Homo sapiens: one gene and its partner. The protein of the gene in region 2 purifies or fractionates together with the protein of the main gene of each other region. This does not show direct contact. Each region holds a gene or a part of one and is shown on either strand. Other genes may lie near its edges.

Evidence for each region. Proteins that work in one complex are often made in the same cells at the same time.
Region 1: the proteins of HEPACAM2 (region 2) and BMPR1A purify together in Homo sapiens (affinity purification with mass spectrometry; 3 studies listed by BioGRID and IntAct, with this or other methods). This does not show direct contact.

What each region holds. Positions count from the first base shown.
Region 1 is NC_000010.11:86,917,119-86,920,618, reverse strand, and holds part of BMPR1A (bone morphogenetic protein receptor type-1A isoform 3 precursor), read right to left. Parts: intron 3,486-3,500; coding exon 3,293-3,485; intron 1,448-3,292; coding exon 1,150-1,447; intron 1-1,149. UniProt on the Homo sapiens protein: On ligand binding, forms a receptor complex consisting of two type II and two type I transmembrane serine/threonine kinases.
Region 2 is NC_000007.14:93,212,970-93,216,469, forward strand, and holds part of HEPACAM2 (HEPACAM family member 2 isoform 1 precursor), read right to left. Parts: intron 2,717-3,500; coding exon 2,432-2,716; intron 1-2,431. UniProt on the Homo sapiens protein: Required during prometaphase for centrosome maturation.

The DNA of each region.
Region 1 (3,500 bases), on a different chromosome or scaffold from region 2:
AATGCGTTGTATTTTCCTATAGCATCTGATAAATATCTGAGCCAACAAATACTACACTGACTCAGAACACTGTAACAGATTTAAATGTCTCTTACAGTTGTTTTAAAGACTGGTACTTTTATATTACAGCCTAAAATGAATTCTGAAATGTAAAGCAGCCACTCCATTCTAGAATTACAAGATTAAAATGGTTTCAAAGGTTTCCTAAAAATTTGTAATTTCTAACACTTGCATTTGTTTTAAAATACTGACACTATCAAGTGGTGACAGAAAAATGACATCCTTATCTCTACTGCTTACGGGTGTGTAAACTGAGGCACACTGCTGAAAGAAATAATATGCAACATACCATAGTTTAATATGTATAAACTCACTGCCTCAGCAGGCCCTTCTCTAGGAATCCATCATGAAGAAATGCTTGTACAAGTGCACAAGGATCAAATATATAATATATGGTTAAAATACAACAATGTTCATTAAAAAACCTTTTCATAATCAACTGAAGACACCTTTAATGTTCATCAGTTGGGTCTTAAGAATAAACTACAGTACCTCCACATATGGAAAACTCTGCATCTGTTAAAAAGAATGAAGTAGATTTACATCAGCTGAAATGGAAGGATGGCTAAGACTATATGGCACACACCTGTAATCCCAGCACTTTGGGAGGATCAGCTGAGCCTAGGAGTTTGAGACCAGCCTAGGCAACACAGTGAGACCCCATCTCCGCAAAAAATAAAAACATTAGCTAGGTGTGGCAGTGCATGCCTGTAGTCCCAGCTACTCAGGAGGCTGAGGTGGGAGGATTGCTTGAGCCCATGAGGTCGAGGTTGCAGTGAGCTAAGATCACACTACTATATTCCAGCCTGGGCAACTGAGTGAGACACTGTCTTTAAAAAAAACAAAAAACAAAAAACAAAAAACAAACAAAAAAAAACACCAAAAAAATATATATATATCAAGAATTATGTATAGGAGAAGTAGGACACAATTTTTGTAAAAAGAACAAAATCCCCCCCAACTATACATTTATGTAACTAAAAACAAGCATATGCACATTTTTAGAATTCCATTATCTTGAATACAAATAGGGAAATATCTTTTGGAAATTAAAATAATTTCAAAACAGTGGGGCAAAGAACCACTCACCTGTTGAATTTAACAGCAAGGCCCAGGTCAGCAATGCAGCAACTCCCATTTTTCTTGATGAGGATGTTTTTGCTCTTTAGGTCTCGATGAGCAATTGCGGGCTTTCCTTGGGTGCCATAAATTTCTGTGTGCAGGTGGCACAGACCACAGGCAGCTGAATAAGCCAATTTAAGCAGGGCTCTGGTGTCCAGTGTAGCACATTTCAGGAAGTCATAGAGAGATCCATTTTCATGGTAATCAGTAATCAAATAGAGCTGAGTCCAGGAACCTGTACCTTTAATGTCTGCCGCTATGAAACCTGTCCAGTTGATGAGTTTAAAAGGTTAGTTATCATCAGAGATAGGCTAGGGAGAAGTAATGCTCATTCTGGATACTGAGAAAAACTTAGGTATCATGTGCAGATAGTGAAACTTTAATTCGCCTGACACCAAGTCGTGAATGTGTTACTAAAAATTATATTTCTACATTTACACATATATCTGTACTTCTACAATAAATTTATAATAATCTTAATAATCATGAAAGTGAATAGGATTAAGAAAAAGATCATATATGCTGGGTGTGGTGGCTCACACCTGTATCACTTTGGGAGGCCAAGGCAGGAGGATCACTTGAGGTCAGGAGCTCGAGACCAGCCTGGCCAACAGGGCGAAACCCCGTCTCTACTAAAAATACAAAAATTAGTTGGGCATGGTGGCAAGTGCCTGTGGTCCCGGCTACTCTGGAGGCTGAGGCAAGAGAATCACTTGAACCTGGCGGCAGAGGTTGCAGTGAGCCAAGATGGCGCCACTGCACTCCAGCCTGAGCGACAGAATGAGACTCCGTCTCAAAAAAAAAAAAAAGAAAAGAAAAGGAAAGAAAAGAAAAAGATGACATATTATACAAATAACCTGGAGAATATTATCAACCTACATGATTCTCTAGTAGAAAAGGCTCTCAATTTCAAAGCAAAAAGTGGACACTTTTATAAAATTAAGAATGTTCAACTAAGAGTTAGCTCCTAATTAAGCCAACTCCCATTTGCCCATCAGTGACTCATCACAGCTGCCTTTTCAGTCTGGCTCGTTGACTGCCAGGCCCACAGTCCTGCTCTTTTCCTTTCTCTCCTACCCTCTTCCCTCCAGAAAAAGGTCAGTGAGTGCTATGTACTGAGCTGAACAGTGCTCCCCGACAAAATTCATGTCTAAAATCCATGTCATCTATAAACGTGACCTTATTTGGAAAGAGGGTCTTTGCAGATGTAATCAAGTTAAGATGACTCATACAGGATTAGCGTGGGCCCGAATTCAATGGCTGGTGATGTTGTAAGGTGGAAATGTGGACCCAGGCACCCAGGGAGAAGGCCACCTGATGACAGAAATGGAGACTAGAGTGTTGTCTATACTAAGCCAAGGAACACCAAAAATTCCTGGCCACCAACCAGTAGCCAGAGGAGGCAAGGAAGGCTCCTCCTCTAGAGTATTCAGAGACACAACAGCTCTGCCAACACCTTGGTTTTAAACTTCTAGCCTCGAAAACTGAGTGAATACGTTTTGGAGGTTGAAGCCACCCAGTTTGTGGTAATTGATACAGCAGCCCTAGGAAACTAATACAATTGCCTGCTTGGCAACATGCTATGGGCTCTCCAAATTAAAGGGAGGAAAACAAGAGGTGAAGGGAAAAGAAAACTCAGGATAGCCAGATCGGCTTATGTACCTGACTGACCAGCTCACACCTAAATTACTTTGCTATTGTGTAAATGTGGAGATGGGGGGAAACACACATTAAACACAGAACGTACAATGAAACTGCATGTTGGGCTGTTGAGCTTATGAAAGGGAAAAGGCACATATGTTAATGTTACCCTAAATCACTGCTTAAGTTATCTATAAAAGACTGGGTTTTCATTACTATGGGAGTAAGTCCAATAAACTAGTATTATTTTCCATTTGAAACTCACTGCTGTTTCTTCAGCTGGTTAGTAAAGAAAGATCTTGGTTGGCATTCCGGACTATGTTTTATTCAAACCGTGTATTCTACTAGGTTTCCTTTAGCCAAATGTATATAGTTGAACTCACACATTTTCAAAGCACATATGGAGGCTTCCACCTGTACCTCACTAGCCTTGTCAAAAATGAAATTGACTGAATCAGTGTGTACCCACCAAGTATGTTTTCATGGCGCATTAGCACAGTTTGGTAGATTTCTGTTTCTCGAAACCAGCTGGCTTCTTCAGTGGTAAAGAATACTTTCACCGCCACTTTTTCGCCACGCCATTTGCCCATCCATACTTCTCCATATCGGCCTTTACCAACTTGCCGGACCATCTGAATCTGTTTGGCAATAGTTCGCTGAACCTTTATAGAAAAAAG
Region 2 (3,500 bases):
TTGCCTTGGGGATGGCTGTTTACTAAATGACTTGTAAAATCACATATCATCTGTTCTCTTTAACAATTTATGGCTGTGTGGGAACAGTGCCTAAATTTACATCATGATGCTGTTTGCCGCCCTGCTTGGGAGCAGATGGTAAGTATTTACTGTGAATGACCTTTTTTCCCCTTTAATTTTTATCACTTAGAGCTCTCCACTGCAGCATTGCCATATGTTGCACACAAAATGCAGTGGTTACTGGGTTATTATTTACAACTGGAGCTTGAAGGCATATCATGAACTGCAAGTAGATACTTGTCTGAGTTATTGGCTTGACATTGTATTCCACCAAGGCCAATACCAGATTATGACATCACAACCTCATAAGTATATAGTCAATCTTAATAGATTTTATTATACTTTTTCTGCCAAAATAAAAAATAGTTCCTACTTTCATGAAAAAACCCTTCACAGAAACAGTGCCTTTAGAAAACAGAATACTTGATTTTGCTAAAGGTCAGGAAAAAAAAGTGCCAAAGCACTATAATGAAGAAGCTGTCACCTTATAATGAGAATTTAGCCTTTTTACAGCATCGTCAAGTAACACTGGAATCTAAAAGGGATATGAAGAAAGATAATCTGTTCCATTTTAGTTAAGTTCAAGAAACTTTATTGATTTCTTAATCTCTGTCAGCTATTGCCCTATGGATACAAAGATGAAGAATGCAGAACTCTGGTTTGGGTTTGGGGTGTTCACAAGAGTCAAGGAAAATATAAAGCAGTGAGGACCCGGAATGAGAGTGCCTAGGATGCTGAAGGAGCACAATGAACCTGTTAGTGACACTGAGGAGGTGAGATAAGTGGAGGCAGGTAAACCTTTCTGGAAAGGATGATGATGTCATGAGGCAAGAAGAAGGCAACCAGATGAAGAAAGAGAAGTGTGAATAACACCAACCAAGGCACATATTCCCAGCTTGCAGGGAATGATAAAGATTGTAAACATTTGGATGCCACATCCACAGATAGGATATACAACCAATCTTCAGATTACAGTATATATTTTATTTAATTTTTGTTACTCAAAAGCAACAAAACCAACCAACCAGAACAAAAACAGGGCTAAAATAGTGATAGCAAGAAAAATTATTAAATTAATGGGTCTGGGTTGTGTTTGTACATGTTATATGGTAGGTAGTAATTGTTTAGCACAAACAAGACCCTGATGTTTCATTTTTTAAAATCAAATAATCTATAAATGAATGAGTGCATAAATGAATAAGTAAGTGAATGAATGAATATCAATAAGATGAGATGTTGACCAAGTGAAGAATTCTGCATTTGAAAGTAAAAATAGTGAAGACAAAAATTAGTAATGCAATGTTCACAATTACCAATTAATGAGTCAAAATCTTTCTTAAGCCATGTAGATAATTCATCTTTACAATGTGTAAATGGAAGCCACATTTGTAAATTGTCTAAATGTTCTTCTTTCTATTATCTGTCGTTAGTCTTTGCATGTGATAGGTGTTTCTCTATGAGATTTTCATAGGTAATGTTTAAAATAATGTAAAGAAGAAAGTTCAGTCTGTCAGCAAAAGATAGATTCTGTAAAGTGTGAACTTACTCAAATTGGGGTATTCTCATTCTTTCAAATAACATCGTGAAGGAAAGAAGGCTTAGGAGCCTAAAGCATAATATTTAACATTTGCAGGTTTGATTATGGTTTTCTCTCCCATTTTTATATTTTCCACACTGTGTATCACAGCATATTCTGTGATAATAATGAGATTGGTGCATAGACTTGCACATGTTGAAAGAAAGATGTTATTTTCATTTTGCCAGATTAATATGAACTGTATAGCAAAACAAAAGTATATGTCAAAAATGATATTTGCATTTGCCTATAATTGCTTAAGTAAATTTCCCCAGGACTTTTTCATTTAAACCTATGGCTAGAGTTTAAAGACAGGCAGGTAGGGATGGGAAGACATACAGATAAAGAGCTAGAAGAAAGAATTGATGTAAAGAAAATATTTTACAAGAGAAGAATAAAGTATGTTAAATTCAGGAATGGTAATATTTGGAGAGGAAAAAAGTTCTCAAGATATTCTTTCAGTTTTTTTCATTGCAGCCTCTGCATTGTTCTGGGTTCTTGAAATTGAGAATCTTGCTTTCCGCTGGAAATGAGGTCGCACAATAGACTGAATCACGAAATACAACCTGAGTGGCCCCTGGCCAGTATTTCAACTTGATCTTTAAGAAATAGGATTGTGCTAGCAGACATATTTCATACAAGACAGTGCCTAGGAGGTGTGATTAGAACTATTGAACTACAATAATGGTAAAAAGCCAAATGACATCTGGTACTTATATTCTCTGTGACTATCCTGGGAGATATTCTCAGAAAACAACAAAAAACAACTCATGAGTTAAAAAAAAATAAACTTACAATATATGATGGGCATAATGATATCACTTTCCATTTCACTGACAGGGTTCCTCACCAGGCAGCTGTAATTCCCAATGTCTTCCTTGGTTACTGGAGCAATATGAAGGGTATTGTTTTGGGGAGAAAAGGAGTAGGTGGAGCTGGTGTGGACAGGTCTCCCATTTTTTAGCCATTGGTAAGCTAGCCGAGTGCCCCCTTCCACATGGCATGTCAGGGTCATGTTCCCCACATACTCCACAGCCCCAGAGGGAGGATGAATCTGCACCACTGGCTTTGTGACAGGATCTGCAATATTAAGAGAGATATGAATGATTTTTTCTTTTCATGGAAATATAATAAAACCCTATGAGGTCTTTCAAATATGAACTCCTGGAGAAATTATTCCAGCATTTTACACTGTAAATGTAGACAGCTCAGGTAATAACTAAAGAAGAGAAGAGAATAAAAAGCCAGGGAAAATGCAAAATGACAAAATATGAGAATATCATTTATAGTCAGAGATAATCAAATTCCAGAACTTACTTTTCAAGGATGGTCTAATGAAGCCCTTTACTTTATAGGTGGCTGAGAATGTCAGCTTCCTTATTTCCTGTTCATTGTGCTTTCACCAACACCATAAAGGTACACTTTCACAGGCAAAATTTTTATGGTTATTCCCCTCTATTGATTTGTCCTAATGTCCCAATAGCAGCTGGTTGGGATGGATGTGGTGAACTCAAATTTCTATCATCTGCAAAATATACAGCTAACATATATACTATACTTTTGGGAAACTGAGGGATAATTTTAGTGAATCACATATGTAAAACTATTCTTTCTATGTATGTCATGAAGCAATTATAAACTTTAATTGCTTTGCATTTGTGTTGTAACATTATGTTAGGCACTTTAACAAACCAAAACCTACATTTATTTCAACACTGACTCAGTCTGAAAATAGGATAAAATATATTCTTGGGCTTTTATCAAATTAGAGAAAAAAATACAAATCCGATAGAAATTCCTGTTGGAAAGTCAAGTCATAGGAAAATAGTCTTATTTCATCATCTGCCACACAGTAGGCTCTTAA